2 separate regions of the Homo sapiens genome follow, and region 2 is linked to region 1. The links come from fine-mapping of genetic effects on gene expression. A gene starts in region 1. The other region holds a variant in brackets. All regions are shown on one strand. Distances are from middle to middle.

Region 1 (17,057 bases):
CCATTTGGCTTTTCACAAGTTCTCCAGGTCATTCTTGGGCACGATCAAATTTGAGAATCACAGGTCTAGGATACGACGGGGAAAACAGAAATGTGGGGTGGTCAGGGACATTCGGATAATTCGGGCTATTTGTATTCAGGTGTGAGCTGGCAAATCCGAGACCTGTTTTGCGTAGCTAATTACCAGCAATGACAAACTCCCAGGCTCTGAGGCCCAAGCCTCCTGGGCTGCAACTGGTCTTTATTTTTGGAGGCAATGAATGGAGCACCTCGGCCTGGGACCCTCAGTGTAGGGTTTTCTGACTCTTAGGCAACTTCCTAGGGTGCTGTACTTCCTTTTTAAAGTTGGGGAGCGGCAGGGGGAGGGGGAAGTGCCACGCCCTTGTAGTTTCATGATGTCATGTTGCATGTGCTCTTGAGCTGTAAATAAAGAGACGATGGTTAAAAAGCCCACCTGGTGTCTCTCTTTGTTCCTCCAGGAGACGGTCTGTCTGTGCTGGTAGTGAGCTCTACAGGGGCATTTGGAGGGGATCCTTAGCCTGGTATTCCACCTATGACTTCTCAACACACTGGACTGAGCATTTGCCCTGAGCTAAGCAGCAAACAAGGCAGACAGGACCCCTGCCCTCGCCTGGTCCTCATCATAATCCCTCAGCCAGACCTCTTGACTGCGAGTCTCAGATTTTTTTGTTGTTTTTTTTTTTTTAGACAGAGTCTTGCTCTGTCACCCATGCTGGAGTAAAGTGGCACGGTCTCGGCTCACTGCAACTTCTGCCCCCCAGGTTCAAGCAATTCTCCTGCCTCAGCCTCCCGAGTAGCTGGGATTACAAACGTGTGCCACCACGCCAGGCTACTTTTTGTATTTTTAGTACAGACGGGATTTCACCATGTTGGCCAGGCTGGTCTCAAACTCCTGACCTCAAGTGATCCACCCACCTCGGCCTCCCAAAGTGCTGGGATTACAGGCATGAGCCACCGCACCTGGCCGGAGTCCCAGATTTTTATCTCCCTACCCATTTTAGGGTTGGGGCAGCTGAGGTCCGAAAGAGATTCTGAGGTGGGTTGCAGCAGGCCGGTCCCCAGCAGCTTCCTTCCGAGCCAAGGTGGCCGAGTGCAGAGAAGAGCAGAAGCGGGACTCCTGCAAGATAAGAAAGGACAAGGCAGCTCAACAGAAGCCAGGGCTGGGGCAGGGTCAGTTGCCATCTTGGGAAAGGGCATGAACTGGTGAGGGGGTGGCCTGGCTTGGCACCAGGAAGGACATCTCTTATCGTGGTGGCAGTTCCAGCCAGTGCCGCCCAGCTCTGCTGACCAGGGCTTCCTCGGGCAGGCTGTTATGTCTCCCAGTGACCTTGATCCTAAAGCCAAGGTGGGGCCCAGACACCCCTGGGGGCCGTGGTGACCACAGAGATGGGGCGCCCTGAGAGCCTGGTGTCCGTATCTGCAGAGACGTCTCTGCCTAGCCAGGACAGGGAAAATCAGGCTTCCCAAATCCAGGGTTTCCTAAAACATGGGTCCTCGGACCCCCAGCATCAGAATCCTGTGGACGGCAAGCCCAGGTTTCTGAGCCCCACCTGGGCCTCTGACTCAGAATTCCAGGCATGGGCTTGGGAATCTGCACAACTGAAACTCAAGTCTGAGAGCTGCTGCACCAAATCTTCTGAGAACTCACAGTCCTCCCCACACAGCCCCAGGTGGCTGGAGGAGCTCCCACGGGGGATGGTTCTGAGGAGCTGAGCCCAGAAGGCCTGTACCCCTCCAAGAGACTTTGCAAGTCATACCCTCTCTGCCCACTACTCAACTCTGCCATCGTCGTATGAAAGCAGCCATGGATCACACAGAAACAGATGCATGCAAATGAGTGAGCACAGCAGCGTTCCAATAAAACTTTATTTACACAAAAGGGTAGCGGGCCAGATTTGGTCCAGGAGCTGTAGCTTGCTGACCCCAGTCTGTACTACTGACCCCTGGGTCAAAGGTTACAGAAAGGCATGCTGGCCATCTAAAAGCCAAACCCCTCTGTCCTGGGATGTCCACTGGATCCCATTTCTACTAATAAAGGTCAGAACAGTGCTGAGATAAGGGGTTAGGGCAGTCAAGCCCAAGGCCACAGGATGTCAGCTCTCAGTGCCAGCAGCCTGGGTGCAGCCCTTGGTGGAGGGCAGATGGCTGCACTGGGGTGGATCAGTCAGGGTTCTCCAGAGAAACAGAAACAATTGGATATTATTTATATATCTTAAAATATCTATGTATTTATATATCTCATGTGTGTGTGTGTGTGTGTGTGTATACACACAGTCATGTACCATATAAACATTTCAGTCAATGACAGACCACACATACAACAGTGGTCTCATAAGATTGTTTTGTTTTGTTTTTGAGACAGAATCTGGCTTTACGTCTAGGTTGCGCACAGTCATGACACTATGTCTAGTGGCACAATCATGGTTCATTGCAGCCTCAAACTCCTGGGCTCAAATGATCCTCCTGCCTCGGCCTCCGAAGTTTTGTATTATTAATGCAATAATAATTATTGTATTATAAATACAGTAATTAGCCTGGTTAATTATTGTATTTTTTGTAGAGACGGGGTCTCGCTATGTTGCCCAGGCTGGTCTCAAACTCCTGGCCTCAGTGATCCTCTGCCTCAGTCTCCCAAAGTGCTGGGATTACAGGCATGAGCCACCATGCCTGTAATGAGCCACCATGCCATAAGATTCTAATACCATACTTTTACTGTACCTTTTCTATGTCTAGATATGTTTAGATACACAAATACTCATCATTGTGTCACAGTTGTCTGCAGTATTCAGTACAGTAACATACTGTGCAAGTCTGTGGCCCAGGAGCAACAGGCTATCTCAGAGAGCCTAGGTGTGTGGGAGGCTTCACCATCTAGGTTTGTGTGAGTACACACTATGATGTTTGCAGTGTGTAATGCTATGATGTTTGCCCATCAATGAAATTGTCTAATGACACATTTCTCAGAATGTATTCCTGCTGTTAAGCAATGCATGACTGTATATAAAGAGATTTATTTTATGGAATTGGCTCCCATGATTGTAGGGGCTGGCAAGTCTGTAATTAGTAGGACAGGCAGGCAAGCCAGAAACTCAGGCAGGAGTTAATGCTGCAGTCTTGAGGCTGAATTTCTTCTCCCAAGACCTCAGTTTTTGTTCTTAAGGCCTTCAACTGATAGGATGAGGCCCACCACATTCTCAGGGGTACCCTCCTTTCCTTCAAGCCAACTGACTGCAGATGCCCTCACACACACCTACATTCTTTTTTGACTGAAACCTTGGATACTAGAACTTGCCCAAGCTGACACACGAAATTGACCATCATGGAGCTTTCTGGAGCTCAGCTCCCCAGCTCAGATCCCGGTGACTGGACGTGCGACAGAGTTGACCGTGGCGGGTCATGAAGCTCTGGGCTTCCTCACTCTGTTTGGCAGCTTGAGCCTCAGTGTAGCGGTGGCCAACCCTGGTCATGAACATGGACACACATGCTGTGGTGGGCCCAGACCAGTGTCTACCCAGTGTTAGGACATGAAATTGCAATTTGGGGTGGGATGGGGTGGGGAGGGATCGGGTGAGGAGCGATATGAATGGATGCCTGACTGGGTCAGCAAATGACAAAACAGAGCTGCCCCTGTCCCTTCATCACACCTCCCCCAACACACGATGGCATATCCTGAAACTCACACGTTTGCACTGGGGAACCACAGTCAGGAGCCTGGGCTCTGTCCCTGCTGGCGATTAGGCACTGCGGCAAGGGCACAATTGGACGGCGCTATATGCTGTGGTCTTGAACTGGCACTGTGCATCCCGACCTTGACCTGTGTCAGCGCCTGGCACAGAGCAGAATACCTGTGTACAGAGGGAACACCTTCCTCCAGACACAGCCCTGGCCTCCATTGACGGCGTGAGGCGCCCCTCCTCTTGCGTAACTGGGAACTGTTAGACCTTCTTTTGCCAAGCATGAAAATGGAAGCACAAAGGAATTAAGGCCACTTGCCCAAAGTGGTGCTGGAGAGGCCTCCCCCAGGTCTGCCTGACTCCAAAACCTGATCATGTCCATGACCCCGTGTTGCCTCTCAAATACCTGAAGTTTACTGAGCACCTACTAGGAGCTGATCACTGATCTCACCCCTACTCCCACCTCACAGGCACTGTGCCACTCATTTAGGACCCATCGAGGCCGCTGTCAGGCAGGGGGCTGCCAGGACCGAAGTTGGATTCACCTTCAGGCCGGCTTCCCAGAGAGGAAGAGGGCTGGATTCCTTCCAGAGAGCCAGTGGAAGCACCCTCCCCTCCCCCACCCACTTCCTCGTTCTTCTCTTCTCTCTCCCTGTGGCCACTGGCCCCCTGCAAGGAAGATGAGACCTCGAAGAGCCTGCAGCAGAGTCAGACGTGAAAGCCACCGCCAGTGAGGCCTGAAAGCAGTGAAAGCAAACACCAAAGATAAACCCCATGGCAGATAGGCGTCTCGGGCCGTCGGGCTCAGTGACCACAACAGGCCTCATGTGTGTATCTGAGCCATCACTCAGATTCAGCCAGAGCCCTCCAACGCCTCCCTTGGAATTCCAGCAGCATCCACGTGGAAAAATGGGAGAACGAAGAGAGGAGGAGGAAGCAGCCTGAAGTTATGACACAACCAGGACAGGCCATGGGAGGCGGGAGGCAAGCAGCACACATTGAAACTCGCTCCGTGCAGGGCCTGGGCCAGGGGCTGGAGTTGATCTCTGAACAAGATGCTCAGAGTTGAGGAAAGCACGTGAGCATGCACATGCACACACACACACGCACCCACACATACATGCACACGCACACACACGCACCCGCACATGCAGACACCCACACCCACACACATGCACACCCATGCACATGCCCATGCACACCTACACACATGCACACACACACACCACCGCACATGCACACCCATGCACATGCCCATGCACACCTACACACATGCACACACACACACACCTGCACATGTGCGTGCACACGCACACAATAAAATAAGAGGATTGCTGCTGTATGCAGCAGGGGTTGAAGGAAATACCATAGGTCAGAATTTGAGAGTAGCTGAAGTGCCTCTCCTTCCTCTTGGGCAATAGCCTCTTACTTCCGCTTGTGTTCTGGGTGGTTTCTAACACAGCCACAGCTTCCTGGACTCCAACAGGGCACAGGCAATTTCCTTTTCTGCCTTTTCTACAATCACCAAAGGTTCCATAGGGCATTCTGATGGGTTCTCTGAGCACAAGGGTCTCTGGAGGGACAGGGCACTATTGCCACATGTCTGGGAAGGCCTGGCGGGGATCATTCTTAACCGGCAGTAATTTTCATAGGACCCTGATGAGGTGGCAGAGCAGCCGGAACATCAGGCATGATTTCCTGTGTTTTAAAGCTCAAGGAGTATTTATGGAGGCTGGCTGGAGTCCATAAGTGTCAGCAAGGGATGCCGCTGTAAGATTGAATTCTGTGCCATCGGGACAAATCGTTCAGAGTCAGCCCTCATTAGTTTTAAGTAGTCACAGAAACAAATGTCCCCTCTGGCCGGGCACGGTGGCTCACGCTTGTAATCCCAGCACCTTGGGAGGCCAAGGCAGGTGGATCATGAGGTCAGGAGTTTGAGACCAGCCTGGCCAACACAGTAAAACCCCGTCTCTACTAAAAATACAAAAATTAGCCGGGTGTGGTGGCACATGGCTGTAGTCCCAGCTACTTGGGAGGTTGAGGCAGGAGAATTGCTTGAACCCGGCAGGTGCAGGCTGCAGCGAGCCAAGATCGCCCCACTGCACACTAGCCCGGGCGACAGTGTGAGAGTTCATCTCAAGAAAAAAAAAAAAAGCAAAATTAGCTGGGCATGGTGGTGTGAGCCTGTAATACCAGCTACTTGGGAGGCTGAGATGGGAGGATCACTTGAGCCCAGGAGTTGGAGGCTGCAGTGAGCCAAGGTTGCACCACTGTACTCCAGTCTGGGTGACAGAGCACCTAGAGGGCCCTGTCTCAAAAAAAGAAAATAAAATGCATTTAATACACCTAACCTACTGAACATCATAGCTTAGTCTAGCCTACTTTAAACATGCTCAGAACACTTACATTAGCCTACAGTTGTGCAAAATCATGAAAAACAAGCCTATTTCATAATAAAGTGCTGAAAACCCTATGGAATTTATTGAACACTATACTGCAAGTGAAAAACAGAACGGTTATACTGGGGACTGGAAATATGGTTTCTACTGAACGCAGATCGCTTTCGCACTGTTGGAAAGTAGACAAATCATGTCAGACCATTGTAAGTTGGGGAGTGTCTGTACTCACTCAATACATGACCCCAAGCCTTGTGGAATGCCACGTGGGGGTCTATTATGTCCTTCCATAGCCAAGAATAGGTCGTGGCAGGAACTCCGGTTCCTTTGAGGATACCGACAGTTTCACTTTCTTTTGTTTCTCCGTGCTTCCCACCTCCCCGCATCCCCCCAACCCCACCAGCCTGCCAAGCCCGCCCAGCCAGCTGGGTGTTCTCGTGCTCTCCTCCCTCCGCCTCTGGCCCCAGCTGGTGGAGATGAATACAGTGTCAGTGTCTGAGCCACAGGGACGTTCCACAGGCCCAGCCTTGTGCTGCCTTCCGATCCTTGTCTTCTCCTACTTGCTTCACTCTATCCTTCTCATTTCAGCCCTGGCCGGATTTTTCTGCTGTGTGGTTACACGTCAGGGTCCTGGAGCCAGGCTTCCTGGGTCCCACCGCAGTTCCAGCAGCAATTAGTGCTGTGCCTGCAGCAAGCGGCTTCACTTCTGTTGATTTCAGTTGCCTAAGTGTAAACAGGAATAAGAACAGCGCGTGCCATAGTTCTGTTGTGAGCATTTACTATGAAGAACTTTCTTTTTTTTTTTTTTTTTTTTTGAGACAGGGTCTCGCTCCGTCTCTCAGTCTCTCAGGCTAGAGTGCAATGGCAGGATCTCGGCTCACTGCAATCTCTACCTCCTGGGTTCAAGCGATTCTCATGCCTCAGCCTCCCGAGTAGCTGGGATTATAGGCATGTGCCATCATGCCCGGCTAATTTTTGTATTTTTAATAGAGACAGGGTTTCACCATGTTGGCCAGGCCGTTCTCGAACTCCTGACCTCGGGTGTTCCACCCGCCTTGGCCTCCCAAAGTGCTGGGATTATAGATGTGAGCCACCGTGCCTGGCCCACTATGAAGCCCTTTCACACTGTCTGCCACACGACAACTACTGTTGGGGCTCAGAAAATGTCACCCCAATATCTGGTGCTTTGGCATGCTAAGTACTATGAACTACAGAAGACTGGAGGCCTCAAAAGCAAGGTCTCTGTGACGCCCTCCTGACCTCCTGTCTCCAGCCCCTCCTTCTCCCGTGAGGCAGTCACAGAACAAGAATTCCTCCTTTGGCAGGGGATGAGGTGACTCAAGTCTGTAATCCCAGCACTTTGGGAGGCCGAGGCAGGTGGATCGCTTGAGCCCAGGAGTTTGAGACCGGCCTGGGCAACATGGCAAGCCCTGTCTCTATAAAAAAAAATACAAAAATTAGCCAGTCATGGTGGTAGGTGCTTCTAATCCCAGCTATTCAGGAGGCTGAAGTGGGAGGATCACCTGAGCCCAGGAGGTTGAGGCTGCAGTGAGCCATGATCACACCATTGCACTCCAGCCTGGGTAACAGAGCAAGACCTTGTCTCAAGAAAAAAAAAAAAAAAAATCCTCCTTCTCCAAGGTGGGTCACAGAAACTAGAACCCGTGTCTCCAAAGTAGCCATAAAACCTAGAAAGGTGGCTCTCTCCCTTCTCTCTTTAAAGACCTCATTACAGAGGGGTTCTACCTCATACCCAGGAGGAAGGAATGCTGCATGGAGAGCCCAAGAAGAATCTGGACAAGACTTGTTCATTTTCTTTTTATCCAATTGCATTGCTACAGGGCTGTTCATTCTTCCTTGAAACTAAGCACAAAAATGGACAGATTTCCCAGGGCCTTTGAGTCTTCATCTCTGAAGCCTCCCATGTCACATGAAGCTTTGCTTAACTAAACTTGGTATGCTTTTCTCTTGTTAAGCAGTCTTTTTTTACAGGAGTGTCAGCTGTGACCTTTATGATGGGTGAGGAAAGGTATCACACCCTTCCGCCCCTACAGGGTCCTGTAAATGTCAGTTTAGTAAATGTCAGCTCTAATCCTAGGAGTTGTTTTGCGGTTTTTTTGTTTTTTTTTTGACATGGAATCTCACTCTGTTGCCCAGGCTAGAGTGCAGTGGCAGGATCTCGGCTCACTCCAACCTCCACCTCCCAGGTTCAAGCAATTCTCCTGCCTCAGCCTCCCAAGTAGCTGGGACCACAGGTGCACACCCCCATGCCTGGCTAATTTTTGTATTTTTAGTAGAGACGGGGTTTCATCATGTTGGCCAAAATGATCTCGAACTCCTGACCTCAAGTGATCCACCGGCCTCAGCCTCCCAAAGTGTTAGGATTACAGGCTTGAGCCACCGTGCCCGGCCTGTTTTTCATTTTCTCCTTACAAAGTGATCACAACTTTATTATATACCTAAAGGCTTGGATTAAATCCCTCTAGAATCTGGAGTGTATGGGAAATATTTTTTAGAAGGAAATTGATCAGGCTGCGCACTGTGGCTCACGCCTGAAATCCCAGCACTTTGGGAGGCCGAGGCGGGCAGATCACCTGAGGTCAGGAGTTTGAGACCAGCCTGGCCAACGTGGCAAAACCCTATCGCTACTAAAAATACAAAAATCAGCCGGGCATGTTGGCACCCACCTGTAGTCTCAGCCACTCAGGAGGCTGAGGCAGGAGAATCACTTAAACCCGGGAGACGGAGGTTGCAGTGAGCTGAGATCGCGCCACTGCACTCCAGCCTGGGTGACAGAGCCAGACTCCATCTCAAAAAAAAAAAAGATAATAATAACATAATATTCTAATATTGACTGCTTACTGAGAAATTACTCTCTTCTAAGTACTTTACTAATAACAATAATTAATTACCAATAATGAACTAATAATAATAATAGCAACCAGTCCTAAATCAAACTGGATGTAGCCATTTGGCTGGTCTCTAATTTACCCCTAGACTGGGGGGATCTGTGCCTCCTAAGAGGGCATTAAGTTAGGCCTATGGGCCCTGCAGCCCTGCAAAACTCTCCTCATCCATCCAGAGAAACCCTTTCTTTGCATCTGGAGAGACTATGGGTCTTGGTATTATCTAAGGACTCACCCAGGCAGTTTTGTAGGTTCCCACCTGGTTTCCCCCACCCTAGGAATAAGACCAAGTGCTCAGGTGTACCCTGAAGGTTTCCATACCTAGGTGACACTAAACAAAAGCTGGTGTTCTCTAAAGGAAAGTTGATGTTAGGAAGGGACCTGGAGGTAGAGCGGATTAATGTTCTTGTTGCGGTGGGGGGATGTGGTGGTCAACAATCTTTAAGGGAGGTGCCAGGTGAGGCAGGAGACAGCCCTTTCTTTCCTCATGTACAATTGGGGGAGGAATTTCTTATGGTTTTTCAGCTAGAGTTTTCTAAAACTTTTGGTATGCTGATTAAAGTGGGCTCCCACCAATTTGGCTCCTCAGGTGTTGCTTTTTGTTTGTTTGTTTTTCCCAGACAAGGTCTCACCCTGTCGTCCAGGCTGGAGTGTAGTGGCGTGATCTCGGCTCACTGCAGCCTCCCCGGTTCAAGCAATTCTCGTGCCTCAGCCTCCTGAGTAGCTGGGACTGCAGGTGCACACCACCATGCCCTGCTAATTTTGGTATTTTTAGTAGAGACGGGGTTTCACCATGTTGGCCAGGCTGGTCTCGAACTACTGAGTTCAGGTGATCCACCCTCCTTGGCCTCCCAAAGTGCTGGGATAACAGGGGTGAGCCACTGCGCCCAGCCTCATCTTGTGTTGGTAATAACAATAGCTTGTGTGTCCTGCCCATTTACTAAGTGCCGGGCACTGTTCTCTCCTAGAACAAACCGTAGTTAGACTCCTCTGAGTCCTCATCTTGACTAGGCCTCGGCCTTGGACCTCTGTGTCTTCCTGTCCTTGCTGGGCCTGAGCCTGCATAATAAACCAGTTTCAGCAAGAGTCCTGCTAAGTTAGCAAGAACTCCCCCATCCTTGATGTCTCCTCCTAGGAATCTTCCATTCCTGCTCCCTCATTCTGCTCTGGCTATAAATCCCTCCTTGGTCCTTGTTGTATTCGGTGTTGAGCCCAAACTCTCACTCCATGGCAATAACCCTACAGCAAGTCTTGAACAGTACTGGTTTAACAACAGTCCCAATAACGTTTTCTTTAACAACAGCAGTTAGCTCATTTAATCCTCATAAGGATCATATGAGGTAGGTAGCCTAAATAGCCCATTTACACAGGGAAGTGGGAAGGAGAGAGGGTGCCCCCAAGGATGAGACACAAGCTGTTGCCACATCAGCACTTTGCGCCTGGACGGTCCCCCAGTTGTCCTGGCTGCAGGCAGTCCGAACAGTCCGCTTCCTGGAATATTAGCCAGGCAGGATACGCCCTGGGCGACAGAAACTCCAACTTTCGCCAGCGGCCCCCAAGTACTGCCTGGGCGGTGGCGGGAGTCTGGAGCTTGGCTGAAGGCGCGAGCTGCCGACGCCGTCTCCTAGCAACCAAGCGGCGGTCACGTGACCCGCTCCAGCCCGTTTCACGTGGTCTTGAGCTGCGCTGGGGTTGGAGTGGCCGCAACGGGCGGGGCGGGGCGGGGCCGGGCAAGTTTGTTCCCCGAGTTCGGAGCCTAGGAGCCCCCCGCGGCTGCGGCGCAGGTGCCCTCGGCCTGAGTCGGGATGGAGCTGCCTGCTGTGAACCTGAAGGTGGCGACGGGCTGGGGGGAGGGTCCCCTTTGCGGGAGGAAGTGGGACATTTGCATTTTCCCGGAAGGTGGGAGGAAGGACCGGAGTTTTGGGGAAAGAGGGATGGTAGGGAGGAAGGGAAGGTACAGACCCCACGCAAGAAGGAGATGGGCAGGCAGGCCACAGCAGGGAGAGTGATCCAGGCACAGGCCAGCAGGGCGACACTGAGGGGCCGTGGGAGGTGGCAGCGGAGGGCAAGGGCCGCCCCCTCCCGGACTCAGACCCTCCCAGCGGGCAGCGCCGGTCCCAGCATTGCTGTTGCCTGCACGCCCAGAATTCCCCTGGAGGAGGAGGAAGGTGCGCGGGAGGGGCTTGTAGGCGGCTCACCTCCCCCGCGCGGGGTCAGGGACTGGGCTTGCCCCCCGGGTCCCAGCACCGTTTCAGGAGCCTCCTTGTTTGCTAAGTCGGGTTAAGGAAATCAGATGTTCCCAAGCAGTTGGTTTTATAAAGTTTACACATCCAGCGCCCTTATTTCATAATCAAGAAGCGCGAACTCCAACAGAAATTACTTAAAAGCAGAAAACCCCAACTTTGTGCACTGGGGAAAACACTGCAGGGCTTCCTGTGGTGTCTTCATTTCCCGAGCCGTGAGCTCAGTCCGGGTCTGGGTGCCAGCGGCTGTTCTTTTTCTCCCCGCCCAGCCCCGCCGCCCACGTGTCTGGGCTCCATTTGCATTAGAGGGGCTAGGGGCTGTAGTTTTGGTCAGGAAGGTGTGGACCTTGGACCAAACCGGCCATTTTGGGTCTTAGTGCAGCCTCCTTTGAGGCAATATCCAGGAATGTCCTCTTACTCATGAATGACAGAGCATTTAGCTCCCTGTTGGTGTCTGGGACTAAAGGAACCTGAGAAATAGATGGTTACAAAACAATGGCTTAATACACTTTATTATTACACAACATCTGTGCTATGACTTGCTATAGGCATGTTTCCCTTCTTAATCATACTTGCTTCAGCAAACCTTCCTGAAGCTTCCAGTCAAAGGTGGTGGGGAGACATGGCTGGAGCAAGGGAATGGGCTTGGATGGAACGTTCAGCTGGGAAGAAATTTACGTGACAGCAGCCGAGGCTTGTTGGTATCAATATGCACTCTATTCCAGGCAATGTGGGGTTAACACCAACTGCCTTTTCTCTGATGAGGGATTTGCTTAAAATAATTGCTGACAGAGGATCAGGTGAGGGCAGTGGGAGGGACAGAGCTCTAATTTATGGGCTTCTGTGGTGTGCCAGGTTATTTAATCAAGGCAGCCTTATGAGAAAGCTGATATGGTCATCTTTTTACAGATGAGCAAACTTCAGCTTAGACTGGGTAAATTGCCAAGGTCCCACGGGGAGTAAGTGGCAATATCAGGATTTGAACCCATAGGGATCAGACTCCAGGGCCAGGTCCTTTCTGGGGTACCAGCTTAGGGCTGACTTTAACGTTGGCTGTTTCTGTCCTTTGGGAGGGCTTAGTCTCTTTGGGGCTTTTTTTGAGCAACTTTTTGGGCCTGACAGGCTAAGAGCATCCACAGGTATGAGCTATGCTGGCTTTCGGTACCCAGGATGAAAAGGCTGGTCCTCCCCTTGACTTGGCAAACGAGACCCCAGTCTCCAAGGGTGTTAGCCGCTACCAGTCAGAGACAACAAAGTGCTGGAAGGCCCTGAGGGGTCAGGGTTGTCAGGTCGTGTACAGGAGATCCAGGTGAATTTGAATTTCAGATCAACAACGAACAGTTTTTTAGTATGAGTAAGTCTCAGGCAATATGTGGGACATATTAACAAATTATTCATGATCTGATATTGGAAATTAACTGGGTGTTCTGTATTTTTGTTTGCTGGATCTGGCCACCCTGTGGAGGGCAGCTGTTGACTCCTTGCTTATAGGCACTTAGGGGATGTTCTGAGTTCAGAGCCCTTCAGGAGGTGGGGAACTGCTCCCTGTGGCCTGCACTCCCTCCCCACTCCCTCGTTTTGTATATTCCTTGGGCAAGGGCTGAGTGCCTGCTTCTGCCCAGCTCAGCCAGAGTGGGCAGTGGTGCCAGGTGAGAAGAAACAACTGCCCCAGGCCCTTTGCACAAAGGGCAGCTCCTGACCAAGCCCTGTCCATGTCTCTTGAAGCCAGGTCCTGAGCTGCAAGAATGACATTGTGATGAGCTTAGAAAGGACTGGACTAGGGTACAGAGGTCTTGTGGGAAGAAGACCTTGGGAGGAGGATCTGGTGGTCTAGGAGGTAGTCGTGTAGCATTTGGGTTAAAAACTCAGTAATGAGGACTGCTGGGATGGAGGGCTGAATTCCTCACAGGCACTGTGTGGAGCGCTTCCCACACCTCTCCACCTCCCTGTACCACTGGATCCACACAACAACACTGAATCAGGCAGTATTGCCCTTCTTTGCAGAAGAGCCAACAGCTGTTCTGAGAGGTCAGGTGACTTGCCTAAGGTCACTAGGTTCTAAAGTCATGGAGCCAGGATCAGATCCACCTGTTTGCCTCCAGTACCCACGAAGTTAACCGCTGCACAACTCTGCCTCCCATCCTTGGCAGCCCTGACTGGTGTCCCTGGGCCCCGGCCACCCTGGGGGATCTCACTAGCACGTGTAACAGGCCACCAAGTGTTTGCACAGGACTGGTAGGAGTTTATTCCATTTCTGGGAAGTCCTACCCCGCCATGGGTCCTCTAGTGGCAAACAAAGGGTTTAAGTCTTGGTCTGCATGCCCTGCTGGTTTCTCTTCAGCCTTTCCTTCTCCAGGTTAGACTTCCTCATTTCCATCTGCCCTCTACGGCTCTTCGAGATCCTGACGGTGTAGCACAGTGGACAGAGCACAGGCTTTGGGGGCAGGCAGGTCTGCATTCAAGGTCTTGAGTAGGTTTCTGTGTGACCTTGAGTAGGTTTCTGAACTCTCTCAGTATCTATTTCTTCATTGTAAAAAGAAGTTAAATACAGTCCCTACCTCCTAGGATGATGGATCCATGGTCCAGGACGTAGTCTAGAATTAGGGTTACAAATTCAGGCTGGGCCAGGCGTGGTGGCTCACACCTGTAATCCTAGCACTTTGGGAGACCCAGGCAGGTGGATCATTTGAGGTCAGGAGTTCGAGACCAGCCTGGCCAACATGATGTAACCCCACCTCTACTAAAAATACAAAAATTAGCTGGGTGTGGTGGTGCTCGCCTGTAGTCCCAGCTATTCAGGAGGTTGAGGCACCGAGGATCACTTGAACACGGGAGGCAGAGGTTGCAGTGAGCCGAGATCGCACCACTGCACTCCAGCCTGGGCGACAGAGCAAGACTCTGTCTCAAAAAAACAAACAAAAACTCTGGCTGGATAGATTGATTCTGACATTTGTGTCTGGGCTCTGTTGTTTGTAAGCTTTATGAATTGGGCCAATTTACTTAATCTCTCAGAGCCTCAGTTCTACCCCATACAGTTACACGGATGACATGAGTTAGGGGCAGTGCAGTGTAGATGCATGGCAGGCTGGTGCTTGTCAGTAGCAGGAGTTGCTGCTGTCGTTGATGATGCAGGATCCCTGCCCCACATAGGTATTTAACAGTTAGTAAACGGATACTTACAGTGACCGTCCAGATAGATGCTTGTCTCTGGCAGTTGAGGCACCCCCGTGGGACAAATGGGTACTGCCTCCGTTTCGCAGAAAGGAGCCTGAGGCCTTGGCGCCTGGACCAGCACCCAGGTTTCCTGTTCCAGCATAGCATCCTGGGACCCTCTGCTGCCTTGGTCCATTGACCCCTGTCTGGGAAAGAGCTGGGCGGCCTCCCCTGGGCTGAGCACTGTAGTGAGAGTCCAGGGGCTCAGGTCCGTCCTTCCTGCCCAGCTGGGAAAGGTCCTGGCCCTGCCACCCGTTTAGCTCAGGTTCCTTCCCTGCTTCCAGCTCCTCTTTCAGGCCATACCTGAGAATCCTGTGTCTCTTTGGCTACCAGGAAGCTCCCCCAGGGCCAAAAGACAGTGGTTTTGTCCTGACAGTTACTGGCCCCTCTTTCCCTGGGCTGCCAGGAAGTGCAGGGCCCGTTTGGCTCAGTTTCTCCCTGGAGTCTTCCTGCACATTAAGGCCTCTCTGGGTGTCCTCCTGTTACACAGATGAAGAAACTGAGGCAGGGGAGGCTTAGGCTTCTGGACGTTTCTTTTCCCAGGGGCTTAAGAGGAGCAACTGGTGCTAACTTTGTTCATATTTATCAAACCAAAGTGACGTCACGCAGAGGAGACTGTGTGTGTGCTAAGGATCTGCAGTATTTCCAGGTTACGTTGTTTTCTTCCCTAACAGAGATGGCAGAGGTGTGGGCCCAGCTGGGTGCTCACTCTGTATTACAGGCCCTTCCAGCGCTAGGAAAAGCCTTTACCTCATAGGTTGTAAGCATGACCCTTAGGGTATCCTGCGGATCAGAGGCCCCCCTGGGACTCAGCCTTTCATGCTAACTGCCATTCTTTCCGGAATAATCCAGGGCTCTGCAGGGCCCATTTATTAAAGACCTACTCTGTGTACAGTCTAGGCATAGGAGCGAGAGCATTGAAAATGAAGATCATTTCCAAAACAAGCCCAGAGTGGGAAGAGTTAGGTGTCGATTTTGGGGAGGAAAGGGGTGATGGGAGCTACCTTCCCTCTGTCTCTTTCCTCGGTGTCTTCTTTAAAAGCTGGATGTTGGGACCACTGTGGCTGACTCTGCGGTGTGGCCCTGAGCAAGTTCCTTCCTGTCTGTGGTCCAGGGTTTACTATCAGATGGAGGGGACAGTGGTTAGCTCTGAAGATAAAGATCAGAATCGTCCTCATGCCCAGCCCTGCCTGCCCCCAACTTCCTGTCCCTCCCTCCTCCACTCCCCTCACCTTCCACTCCAGCCACACTGGCTTCTGTTCAGTTTCCAGAAAGTTCCACGCCCCCCTTCTGCCACAGAGCCTTTGTGAGTGCCGCCCCTCCTGCTCAAAATGCTCTTCTTCCCCCTCAGCCTCCCCCATCCCTTCCTCAGAGAAGCCCCTGACCACCCCAACCCTCCCAGCCTCCCTGCTGTTCAATCAGGTGCCCTTTCCCTTGCTTTCCTTCAGGATGCTTTCCTTCAATCAGGTGCTTTCCTTCGGGATGAGGGTTCACTGCACCTCCATTCCTAGGGCAGAGTACCTGGTTAGCGAGGTCAGTACTGAGAGCGCAGCTCCGAATCTGCTCTGCACACCTCTGACTCCCCAGGGTGAATGAAAAGCAGGTGCCAGTGATGCTGGGTGACACTAAATGTTTAAGAAACTTAACACCGTTTATCACTTCAAGCCCCTGGGGATTGAAATCCATGGAAGACTACACCTCTCTTGCCTCAGTTTCCCCATCTTTGTAATGGGGAGAGGCCTAATGGCTGGACAGCACAGCCTGGGTTTGAGTCCTGGCTCTGCCACTGGCCTGCTCTGTGACCTTGGGCAAGTTACTTCCTTCTGAGCCTCAGTTTTCTCAGCTGTAAAATGGGGATAATAAGACCTCAGAGGATTGTAAGGATTTAGTGCATTTATATACAGAAAGCACTTAGAATGGCACCTAGCACATAGGAAGCGCTCAATAGTAGACGAAGGTAGGTGAGGTGATGGCGAAGATTCCTTCTAGAGCTAGACTTCTGTAACACACTACTCAGCCTGGTCAGAGTCTCGAGATCTTAAAGTTGGGTGCATCGGTCCTTACAGAATTATTTTCCTAGTCTCTTGGAGCTGAGAAAGGAATTTCTTTTGGGCCACAGAGCCAGGCCCCTTGTGGTTCACTCTGGCCCTGGGCCCTGGAGGTAAAGGTGAAGTATCTCAGCCACCAGCTCTGGATTCCATCTGCCCCCATGTGTGGACCTTTCTCACAAGCCCAAACAGTTCCCAGCTGAAGGCCTGCGCCCCCAGCGGGGAGGTTGGGTGCACTGGTTTTGGAGGCGAGTTTGAAATTTAATTCCAGTTTTGCCACTTGCTACCTGTGGAGTCTTGATCAACATAATTTATCTCTGAGTCTGGTTTTCTCATCTGTGAAATGGGAATAATAGTACCAGAGGCTGCTGTGAGGTCCAGATAAGGTCATGTGAGACGGTTGGCATAGGGCCTGGCACATAGTTGGTGTGTGGTCAAGAGTAACTCTTCTAGAAATGCTTTTTCCTCTGCTGCCAGAGTGAGTTTGTCTGTCTTTCTTTTCTGTCCTTTCTTTCCCTTCTTTCCCTTCCTTCGTTCCTTCCTTCCTTCCTTCCTTC
Region 2 (10,726 bases), 26 kb after region 1:
GGAGGCAGGCAAGAGATAGAGCCCTTGCAGAGGAACTCCCATTTATAAAGCCATCAGATCTCATGAGACTTATTCACCATCACCAGAACAGTATGGGGAACCATCCCCATGATTCGAGTATCTCTACCTGGCCCCGGTCTTGACACATGGGGATTATTACAATTCAAGGTGAGCTTTGGGTGGGGACACAGCCAAACCATATCAGGACTGAAGTCACACTTGTCCAGTTTGCAAATCTATTTCTTGTTTTCACAAAGCTGAGCCTTCCACATGAGGAAGCCAGAGAAATTGCCCCACAGGAGGTCACTGCCTTCTCCTGTTGGCCAGAACTGGACCAGAGCTGCAGTACCTACAGGGCCCCACCTCAGGCCGGTTCTCAGAGTCTCCGGAATGGCCTGGAAATGCCAACTCTCACACTGTGTCTCTAAACGGGCTCTGGAGTCAGTGAGCCTTGGTTTAAATCCCCTATGCACTCTGTAACTGGCTGTGTTAAGAGACACTATCTCTTAACCTCACTGTGCCTCAGCTTCCTCATCTGAAAATGGGGACAATAATAGTGCCTGACTCGGGTATTAGTGAGGACTGAAAATGGTGCAACATCAGTGTTTAATAAATGTTAGATCTCATTATCTGTACGACTGTGTAATCATTTAGAGAGGGAAGGAGTCCAGGTGGCCTGTGACTGGTACCAGCCGGTCGAGGGCAGGAGTGACCTGGGGCCTCCCACCCTGGCTGACCTCATTGCTGCCAGACCTGTCCCCAGGTGAGGGGCACCAGAATGTTTCTCCCATTGGACAGACAAGGAAGCTGAGGCCTGCAGCCCCTGGGACTTGTTCAGGGTCCCAGGATGAATGTACAGAGGAGAGGATGGGTGTTAGGAGTGTGGGGTACTTGGGGCCCTACGGCCCTGCCTTGGACCCAGCCCCAGCCTCCGAGGCTGTCTGGATACAGTAATGTCGTGCCCTTGTGCCTGGGAGGGGAGATGGAGAGGAGTGCGTGGGCCTGGGGCTGGTGTCCCTCTGATCAGCTTCTATGGGGAAGGCCATGGCACAGTGGCCTGGAGCCTGGCTTTGGGCTGGGCTGCCTAGGCATGGATCCCAGCATCATCAGCTTTGAGCTGTGTGATCTCGGGCAAGTCAATTCATCTCTTTGACTCAATGCTATGAACATTTCTTGAGTGCTTTCTACAAGTTTTCAAAAGATTGGAAAATTTTTCAGGAAGTAAAACAGATTTTCCTCACTAGCAACAGAACTCAGGACCCAGTTCTCCAGGTGGTCAGGTGCTTTTGTTCACACGTCTAAGTCAGAAACTACAGAGTCAACAGGTTGTCATAAAACATTGTCATATCTGAGATGAAAATTCAGTATCACAAATTTGAACTTGAAGGAAACTTAGACCTCCCCTAGCCCAGTGGTTTTAAAAATATTTTATTTCAAGGCCAGGCGCAGTGGCTCATGCCTGTAATCCCAGCACTTTGGGAGGCTGAGTTGGGAGGATCACCTGGGGTCAGGAGTTCGAGAACAGCCTGGTCAACATGGCGAAACCACGTCTTTACTAAAAGTACAAAGACTAGCCAGGCGTGGTGGCTCGTGCCTGTGGTCCTAGCTACTTGGGAGGCTGAGGTGGGAGAATCACTTGAACATGAGAGGCAGAGGTTGCAGTGAGCTGAGACTGCGTCACTGCACTCCAGCCTGGGCGACAGAGTGAGACTGTCTCAAAAAAAAATTATTTCAAATCCCTTGTTTAAAAGAAATATTCAATATATAAGAGGCAGCAGGTCTGATCAAGTACCCTCTCATCAGTACCAGGGAACCCAGGGATCCCCAGAGCACAACGTGAAAGCTGATCTCCTAGTTCCTAAATCTCCTAGACACAGGCCCAGAAGGGACAGCCTTGGACAAGGGCACACGGAGACTTGATTTCAGAGCTGGAATGTGGCAATGCAGAGATCAGGATTGCCAGTGGAGTTTTAAAAGAATGAAACAGAAGTATAAATGAAAAACACATGATTGAAATCAGAAACTCAATGCCTAGGTTAATTCATAGAATAGATTTATCTGAAGAGAGAAATGGTAGCCTGGGAGATAGATTTGAAGAAATCACCCAGAATGCAGTAGAAAGAGACAGAAAATACAAAAAAGAAGTTAAGACACAGGTTGGGCATGGTGGCTCATGCCTGTAATCCCAGCACTTTGGGAGGCCCAGGTGAGCAGATCACGAGGTTAGAAGTTCGAGACCAGCCTGGCCAAAATGGTGAAACCCCGTCTCTACTAAAAATACAGAAATTAGCTGGGCATGGTGGCAGATGCCTGTAATCCCAGCTACTCGGGAGGCTGAGGCAGAAGAATTGCTTGAACCCGGGAGGTGGAGGTTGCAGTGAGCTGAGATCACACCACTGCACTCCAGCCTGGGTGATAGAGCAAGATTCCATCTCGGGGGGGAAAAAAAGAAGACACAAAGGATAGAGTGAGAAGGAGCAATATAAATATAGCCAGAGTTCCTGAAGGAGATGATGAGAGAGAAGCAACATTCAAAGAAATCATGTCAGAATATTTTCCAAAATGGAAAGACAGCAAAGCTCAGGTTCAAGAAGCTAAACAATTCCCAAACGGGATAAATAAAAAGAGGTCGGGCGCAGTGGCTCACACCTGTAATCCCAGCACTTTGGGAGGCCAAGGTGGGTAGATCACTTGAGCCCAGGAGTTGGAGACCAGCCTGGGCAACATGCCGAAACCCCATCAATACAAAAGACACAAAAATTAGCCGGGAGTAGTGCCTGTAGGCCCAGCTACTCAGGAGGCTGAGGTGGGAGGATCACCTGAGCCCAGGGAGTTCGAGACTGCAGTGAGCTGTGATGGCACCACTGCAACCCAGCCAGCCTGGATGACAGTCATTCTAACAGAACATGGTTCATTCACTTCTATACCTTCAACACCTAGAACAATGCTGGCACCCATGGCACCCAGTTAATGCTTTGTAAAAGTTGTAGAATGAATGAATGAATGAAAACTACAGAACACCAAAGACAAAAATTAAGCTCCCAAAAGCAGCCAGATAGAAAAGGTATTGTCTCAAAAAGATTGACAATTACTGGCAGCTGATGTCTCAACAGCAACAATAGAAGTCGGAAGACAGTGGAATGATACCTTCAAAGTGGTGAGAAAAATAACTGTCAACCTAAAATTATGCACCTGTGGTCATCCTTCAGGGATGAGGGTAAAATAAAGATACTGAGAAAAATACAGTTGAGTTTATCACCCATAGATCTTTGATATAGAAACATCTGAAGAATCTTTTGATGGCACATGGAATTTTTCTCAGAAGGAAGATCTGA[GA/G]TGCACAAAGGAAATAGTAATTTTGACCTAAAAGGAGATTAAATATTGGCAATTAACTTTAGTTTTTGTTAAATATACATATTAAAATATCTTGGAGCCAGGCACAGTGGCTCACACCTGTAATCCCAGCACTTTCGGAGACCGAAGTGGGCAGATCTCCTGAGGTCAGGAGTTCAAGACCAGACTGGCCAACATGGCAAAGCCCGGTTTCTACTAAAAGTACAAAAATTATGTACAGACGCATGGTGGCAGGTGTCTGTAATCCCAGCTACTAGGGAGGCTGAGGCATGAGAATTGCTTGAACCCAGGAGGCAGAAGTTTCGGTGAGCCAAGATCGCACCACTGCACTCCAGCCTGGGGGATAGAGCAAGACTCTGTCTCTAAATATACGTGTGTGTGTGTGTGTGTGTGTGTGTGTGTGTGTGTGTGTGTGTAGGATAACCACAGAAAGAATAGATATGAAATGTGCAGTTTCCAAGCCAGTGAGGAGCAGGGGGGACCTGAAGAAAAAGAAAACCTTGATCAATTCTTAAAAATGCAAGAAAGGAGGCCAGGTGCAGTGGCTCACGCCTGTAATCCCAGGACTTTGGGAGGCCGAGACAGGTGGATCACGAGGTCAGGAGATCGAGACCATCCTGGCTAACACGGTGAAACCCCGTCTCTACTAAAAAATACAAAAAAAATTAGCCGGGTGTGGTGGCGGGCGCCTGTAGTCCCAGCTACTCGGGAGGCTGAGGTGGGAGAATGACGTGAACCCGGGAGGCGGAGCTTGCGCCAAGATGGCGCCACTGCACTCCAGCCTGGGCGACAGAGCGAGACTCCATCTCCAAAAAAGAAAAAAAAAAATGCAAGAAAGGAGAAATATGAAAACTCTGGCTACTAGCAAGCACAAAAATAAGATAGAATAAATATGTCAAAATCATACATTTGTAAAGAATTAAACTCAAGATACATTGTCAGATCAGATTTTTTAAAATTCCAGCTATATTGTGTTTACAAATGACAAACCTAAAATTATGGACATGGGAAGGCTGAAGGTAGAAGGACGAAAAAGTTATACCAGGCAAATAGGGACCAAAGTGGAACTGGTGGTGCTAAATTAATATCCCACAAATTTGACTTTAAGGCAAAAAATATTACTACAGATTAAAGAGAGTCAAAACCTAAAGAACAGGCCAGGTGCGGTGGCTCACGCCTGTAATCTCAGCACTTTGGGAGGCCAAGGCAGGTGGATCACCTGGGGTCAGGAGTTCAAGACCAGCCTGGCCAACATGGTGAAACCCCGTCTCTATGAAAAATAAAAAAAATTAGCTGGGTATGGTGGTGCACACCTGTAATCGCAGCTACTTGGGAGACTGAGGCAGGAGAATCACTTGAACCCAGGAGGTGGAGGTTCCAGTGGAGGTTCCAGTGAGCCAAGGTTGCACCACTGCACTTCAGCCTGGGCAACAAGAGTGAAACTCTTTCTCAAAAAATAAATAGGCTGGGCGCAGTGGCTCATGCCTGTAATCCCAGCACTTTGGGAGGCCGAGGTGGGCGAATCACCTGAGGTCGAGAGTTCAAGACCAGCCTGACCAACTGGAGAAACCCCGTCTCTACTAAAAATACAAAATTAGCCGGGCGTGGTGGCACATGCCTGTAATCCCAGCTACTATGGAGGTTGAGGCAGGAGAATCGCTTGAACCTGGGAGGTGGAGGTTGCGGTGAGCCAAGATCACACCATTGCACTCGAGCCTGGGCAACAAGAGCGAAACTCCGTCTCAAATAAATAAATAAATAAACAAACAATAAAATAAAATAAAATAAATAAACCTAAAGAACAAAAGCTTCCATCCACCAGATTTAGGAGGAAAGATTAGACACACAGACCTATAAAGGGAGCAGTAATCACCCCCTCCTTCTTCAAGAATTGCTTTAGCATTTAAAAAGTTCTTTGGCATTTATTTGTTAAACATCTGACCCTCACATCAAGGCAGAGAGGTAGGGGAGGGAGGTGTTACCACCCCCACCACTTTTGTTTTGTTTTGTTTTGTTTCGTTTTGTTTGAGACAGTTTCACTCTTGTCACCCAGGCTGGAGTGCAGTGGCGCAATCTTGGCTCACTGCAAACTCTGCCTCCCGGGTTCAAGAGATTCTCCTACCTCAGCCTCCCCAGTAGCTGGGACTACAGGCACGCACCACCACTACCAAGCTAATTTTTATATTTTTAGTAGAGACGGGGTTTCGCCATGTTGGCCAGGCTGGTCTGGAACTCCTGACCTCAAGTGATCCACCCACCTTGGCCTCCCAAAGTACTGGGATTACAGGCGTGAGCCATTGCATCGGGCCTAACCATCCCCCTTTTACATATGAGGAACCTTAGGTTTAGAGAGGTTAGGGACTTGCCTAAGATCACACAGCAGCAGAAGGATTTTTTTTTTTTTTGAGACAGGGTCTCACTCTGTTGCCCAGGCTGGAGTGCAGTGACATGATCGTAGCTCACTGAAGCCTTGAACTCCTGGGCTCAAGCAATCTTACTGCCTCAGCCTCCCAAGTAGGTGGGACCACAGGTGTGCACCACCACAGCCGGATGATTTTTGTATTTTTTTTTGTAGTGATGAGGTCTTGCAATGTTGCCCAGGCTGGTCTTGAATTCCTGGGCTTATGAGAGCCTCCCACCTCAGCCTGCCCAAGTGCTGGGATTGCAGGTGTGAGCCACTGCGCCTGGCCAGCAGAAGGAGTTCATCACAGGTTTTCTGACTGAGTGCTCTTTCCTCTCCCAGCAGGTGCTTAGAAAGGAGAAAACATACAGTCTGGACAGAGGAAGGAGTGGGATGGCTGGGCACAGTGGGGAACAATGTGGGCAAAGGTTTGGGAGGTGGAAAGTGGACGGACCTTTGCAGCCTTGAAGGAAGTGTGATCGAGCTAGGCTGACGGCACGGCAAAGCTTGGGTATTAAGGTGGAGTCCAGCCAGTTTCTGAGGTGCCTGAAGGCTGGGAGAGTTTTTCTTTCTTTTTTTTCTTTTCTTTTCTTTCTTTTTTTCTTTTTTGAAACAGAATCTCACTCTGTCACCCAGGCTGGAGGGTAGTGGCATGATCACCACTCACTGCAACCTCCACCTCCCAGGTCCAAGCAATTCTCCTGCCTCAGCCTCCTGAATAGCTGGGATTACAGGTGCACACCATCACACCAGCTACTTTTTGTATTTTTAATAGAGATGGGATTTTGCCATGTTGGCCAGGCTGGTCTTGAACTCCTGACCTCAAGTGATCCGGCTGCCTCGGCCTCCCAAAGTGCTGGGATTACAGGCATGAGCCACCACATCCAGCCTTTTCTTTTCTTTTCTTTTTTTCTTTTTTTTTTTTTTTTTTTTTTGAGACAGAGTCTTGGTCTGTTGCTCAGGCTGGAGTGCAATGGCAGGATCTTGGCTCTCTGCAACCCTTGCCTCCCAGGTTCAAGTGATTCTCCTGCCTCAGCCTCCTGAGTAGCTGGGATTACAGGTGCCCGCCACCATGCCCGGCTAATTTTTGTATTTTTAGTAGAGACAGGGTTTCACCATGTTGGCCAGGCTGGTCTTGAACTCCTGATCTTGTGATCCGTCCACCTCAGCCTCCCAAAGTGCTGGGATTACAGGTGTGAGCCACTGTGCCTAGCCTTTCTTTCTTTCTTTCTTTTAACAAGAAATTTGTTATAGTTTTATTTTCCTTTGCATTTGCAAAATACTTAGGACCAACATGAAAAAGAAATACCTTCTATGGGGAAAAAAATGGCATTAAAAAGGAAGATGGGAAGGCTGAAAGGGATTTGTGCCTTAGTTGCAAGGAGCTGCAGCATCTCTGGTCCAAGGAATCAAAAAGATATTGGGAAGATATAACAGGAGGAAGAAGAATGTGAATTTACTGAGGGAGAGGGCCCCAAAGTGGGCCTTGAGGGGGAACTGGAGGCCCCGGAGTGGGTCTGGGTGGAGGGAGAGTCCCCCCCGGAAGCCATAGGGTGGGTGTTGGGGAGGGCCAGTGTATCCATGAGGCAGCATCGGTGGAGGAGGTCCACACATACCATGGAGGCATAGGACGTGAGTGACCCATGGGAGATCCAGACCGAGACCCCTTGGGGGACATGCTCATTGGAGGAGGTCCAGGATGAGGCATTCCAGGTGGTGATCAGGGTGGTGGCTGCCCCCCAGATCCTGGGGTCCCATCACGGGTGTGTCCTCAGCCATGAGGGCCATGGTTTGCCAGCTGCATCTGAGACATCCCTGGATGGGACATCGCACCTATTGGGAACGGGTGAGGATGTGAGTGTCCATGACCCGGATGTCCTGCCCCTGGGGTTCCTACCAGTGGGAGCCGGGGGCATGTCCTGCAGCCCCAAGAGGCATAGGTGGTGGGGACATGGCTGGGGGTATCCCAGATGTGCGGGGGCTCCAGGAGGCAGCTCTAGGTGCGGGAAGGAGCCAAGAGGAGGCACGCCTGGTGGAGGAAGCCCAGACCCCAGTGATGCTGCCACAGGATTCGGGGCAGAGGGTGGAGGAGGTTCCCGGGGACCTGATGGCCAAGAGAATGTCGCTCATCTTGCACGTGCAAAAGTTGCCCTGGGACCACGTGCCTTGCCTGCGGAGGACCCGGCAAAACCTGTACCAGGACGTCGGTGGCCACGCCCACGGCTCAGGGCTGGGCGGGGCCAAGCGCGGGGCAGCACGCTCTGCTCTCCGACGTCCCCTCCCGCCCGCGACCTGCCGACCTGCGGGGATCGTTAGCGGTCCCAGCCCCCGTCTAGATTCAAATCCGACTGGGTGAAGGAGGACCCGAGGAGGACCCACGCACGTGAGGGCAGATCCATGAGGGCAGGAAACTGACCTCAGACTCTTTTGGTGGCAAGAGGAGGGAGGCTGTGAGCCCCCTTAAGTGGACAGGGGTGGGGGTGGAGTGGGAGGGGGGAGTCTGAGGGAGACGGACGAGGAGCGGAGAAATGGACCGAAGAGCTCCGGCGTGAGGGGCAGGGGTGCAGGAAGGTCTCCTGTGGATTGAGCGGCCTCAAGTCAACTTGGGCAAGAGGGGATGGTGGGGTGTTCTTGGTTAGGAGTCTGCGCTGTGGAGCCAGCCCTGGGGTGCTCCCTCTGAGGCCTTGGGTGGGACAGGCCCTTCTAAGCTCCTGTCCTCATTTCTAAAACAGGGAACCTAAGTCCCAGGGCTGCAGTGCAGATTAAATGGCAGGACGCCTGCTGAAGGCTGCAAGGTGCCTAGCACGGTTGTCATTTATTCAATGTGCATTTACAAGCCCCTGCTGGGGGTCAGGCATTGTTCTATGGGCTGCAAATCCAGCAGGGAAACAAACAAACAAAAAAAACCAGCCTGCCCTCGTGTGGCTCCTAGGCCACTGGAGGGAGAAATACACTAATTTCTTCACTATGTTAGGTGGCCGCAAGTGCAGGGCAAAGAGAGTGAGGAGAGGCCAGGTTGCTGCAGTTGGAGAGACAGTGGGCAGGGAGGGCTCACTGTGATGTGGGAGGCAAGACTTGAAGGCAGAGGGGACAGCAGCACAGAGGCGCTGAGGTGAGGTCGTGTGTGCCATTTGGAGGAGCAGCCAGGGGGCTGGTGTGTGTGGAGGACAGTGGGCAAGGGGAAGAGGAATTGGGGAGGACCATAACTGGCAGCCAGATTTTAAAGACTTTGCGGGGCTGGGTGTGGTGGCTCACGCCTGTAATCCCAGCACTTTGGGAGGCCGAGGCGGGCCAATCACCTGAGGTCAGGAGTTCGAGACCATCCTGGCCATCATGGTGAAACCCTGTCTCTACCAAAAAATAGAAAAATTAGTCTGGCGTGGTGGCATGTGCCTGTGGTTCCAGCTTGTTAGAGGCTGAGGTGGGAGGATCCCTTGAGCCCAGGGAGGCAGGCGGAGGTTGCAGTGAGCCGGGATCACGCCATTGTACCAGCCTGGGTGGCAAAGTGAGACTCCGGCTCAAAAAAAAAAAAAAAAAGGTTTTGCAGCCTAAGGTATCTTGCAGCTATTGAGCTCTGCTATTGCAGCTGGAAAGCAGACAGTCTGTAAACAAATGGGCTTTGTTTCAATATAACTTTATTCACATAATAGACCACTGGCCCAGGCAGTAATTTGCTAACCTCTGGCCTACAGCCTTGAAGGCTCACGGGGCATTGAGGGGGCTGGAGAGCTTCTGTGGCATTAGAGTTGAGGCAGGGCATGATTTGATTTCAGTGTTTACAGGATCACCCTGCCGCCGCATGAAGAGGAGGCTGTCGGGCGTGAGGACGAGGCAGAATAAGGGTGACCAGTTGGGAGGTGGCAGGTGAGGGCCACTCCGCCCAGTGCTCCAGGGGTCAGATCCTGGATGCGTGTGGGAGGCAGAGCCTGTCAGAGCAGCCACTGGTGTGAGGGAGAAGGGGAATCGGGGTGGCTCCAGGATTTTTGTTTGAGCCACCAGAAGGCCGGAGCTGCCATCCGTGGAAAAGGGGGGCACCAAGATGGGAGAGAGCTGGTTGCGAGGACGGCTGGAGTTCAGTTTTGGACATATTAATGCTGAGATGCCTGTTAGACATCCGGGTAGGCGTGGAGGAGGTCGCTGGACCTGCATGTTCAGACCTGTATGCAGATCAGCCGAGAGGTCTGGGGGGCAGGATGGGGCAGCATTTGACCTGGACACTTAATATGGAAAGGGGGGTGATAAGTAGGGCAGGGAGAGGAGCCACTGAGAGACCAGAACAGTGAGGGGCAGGCCCCAGGCAGCTGGGACCAGGCCAAGAGCAGCTAGGAGTACTGCTAAAGGGAGGAGGTAGGGATCAGAATGGGGTGGGGTTGAATGAGAGCCAGGGCAACCTGTCCTCTCCCCGCAGGGCCCATCTGATTAAACAGACCAGGCCACTCACTGTGGAGTGGACCAAGGATACTCCTGTCCCTGAGCCCATGGAGCTAAGGTCTGATGCCAGCCACAAGGAGAATGTGTCCCCAAAGCCTGCAGCGCTCCCGAAGCCAGGCAAGAGGCTTAGTGGGCCTGGATGGGCAGTTACAGGAGCAGGGCCCTCTCTAGGTATTGGCCCAGAGCCCCCCTCCCAGGCAGGCCAGCCTATAGGGCCTGGCTAATTCCAGAGATCAGCCACCCACGGTCGGCTGGACATAGGACAGAGTCTTCCCAGCCTGGGGCCTAAGGAGGGGGGTCTTGGGAGAGTGAGGTCAGGAAGAGGCCTGGCTGGTGCCCCTGGCTAAGATGGGGCCCCCACAGCTCGGTCCTGGGGACATCCCTTCTCAGGCTGCTGAGGCTTTAAGAAAGCCACAGAGGGCCGGGCGTGGTGGCTCACGCTTGTAATCCCAGAACTTTGAGAGGCCAAGGTGGGTGGATCACCTGTGGTCAAGAGTTCAAGACCAGCCTGGCCAATGTGGTGAAACTGCGTCTCTACAA

Evidence for each region.
Region 2: its variant is fine-mapped to the expression of AGTRAP in whole blood (INTERVAL, PIP above 0.99).

The regions. Positions count from the first base shown.
Region 1 is chr1:11,725,408-11,742,464 of GRCh38, forward strand. It overlaps AGTRAP (angiotensin II receptor associated protein), which reads left to right and starts at 10,729. Exons shown (of 5, transcript NM_020350.5): 1 at 10,729-10,828. The coding sequence starts at 10,802. DRAXIN (dorsal inhibitory axon guidance protein) reads left to right here. Exons shown (of 7, transcript NM_198545.4): 7 at 1-450. RefSeq lists enhancers at 805-1,792, 6,685-6,774.
Region 2 is chr1:11,754,168-11,764,893 of GRCh38, forward strand. It overlaps C1orf167 (chromosome 1 open reading frame 167), which reads left to right and starts at 8,026. Exons shown (of 21, transcript NM_001010881.2): 1 at 8,026-8,138; 2 at 10,164-10,303. The coding sequence starts at 10,234. It also overlaps the pseudogene LOC101060126. The variant GA/G (reference allele first, on the strand shown) is at 3,336.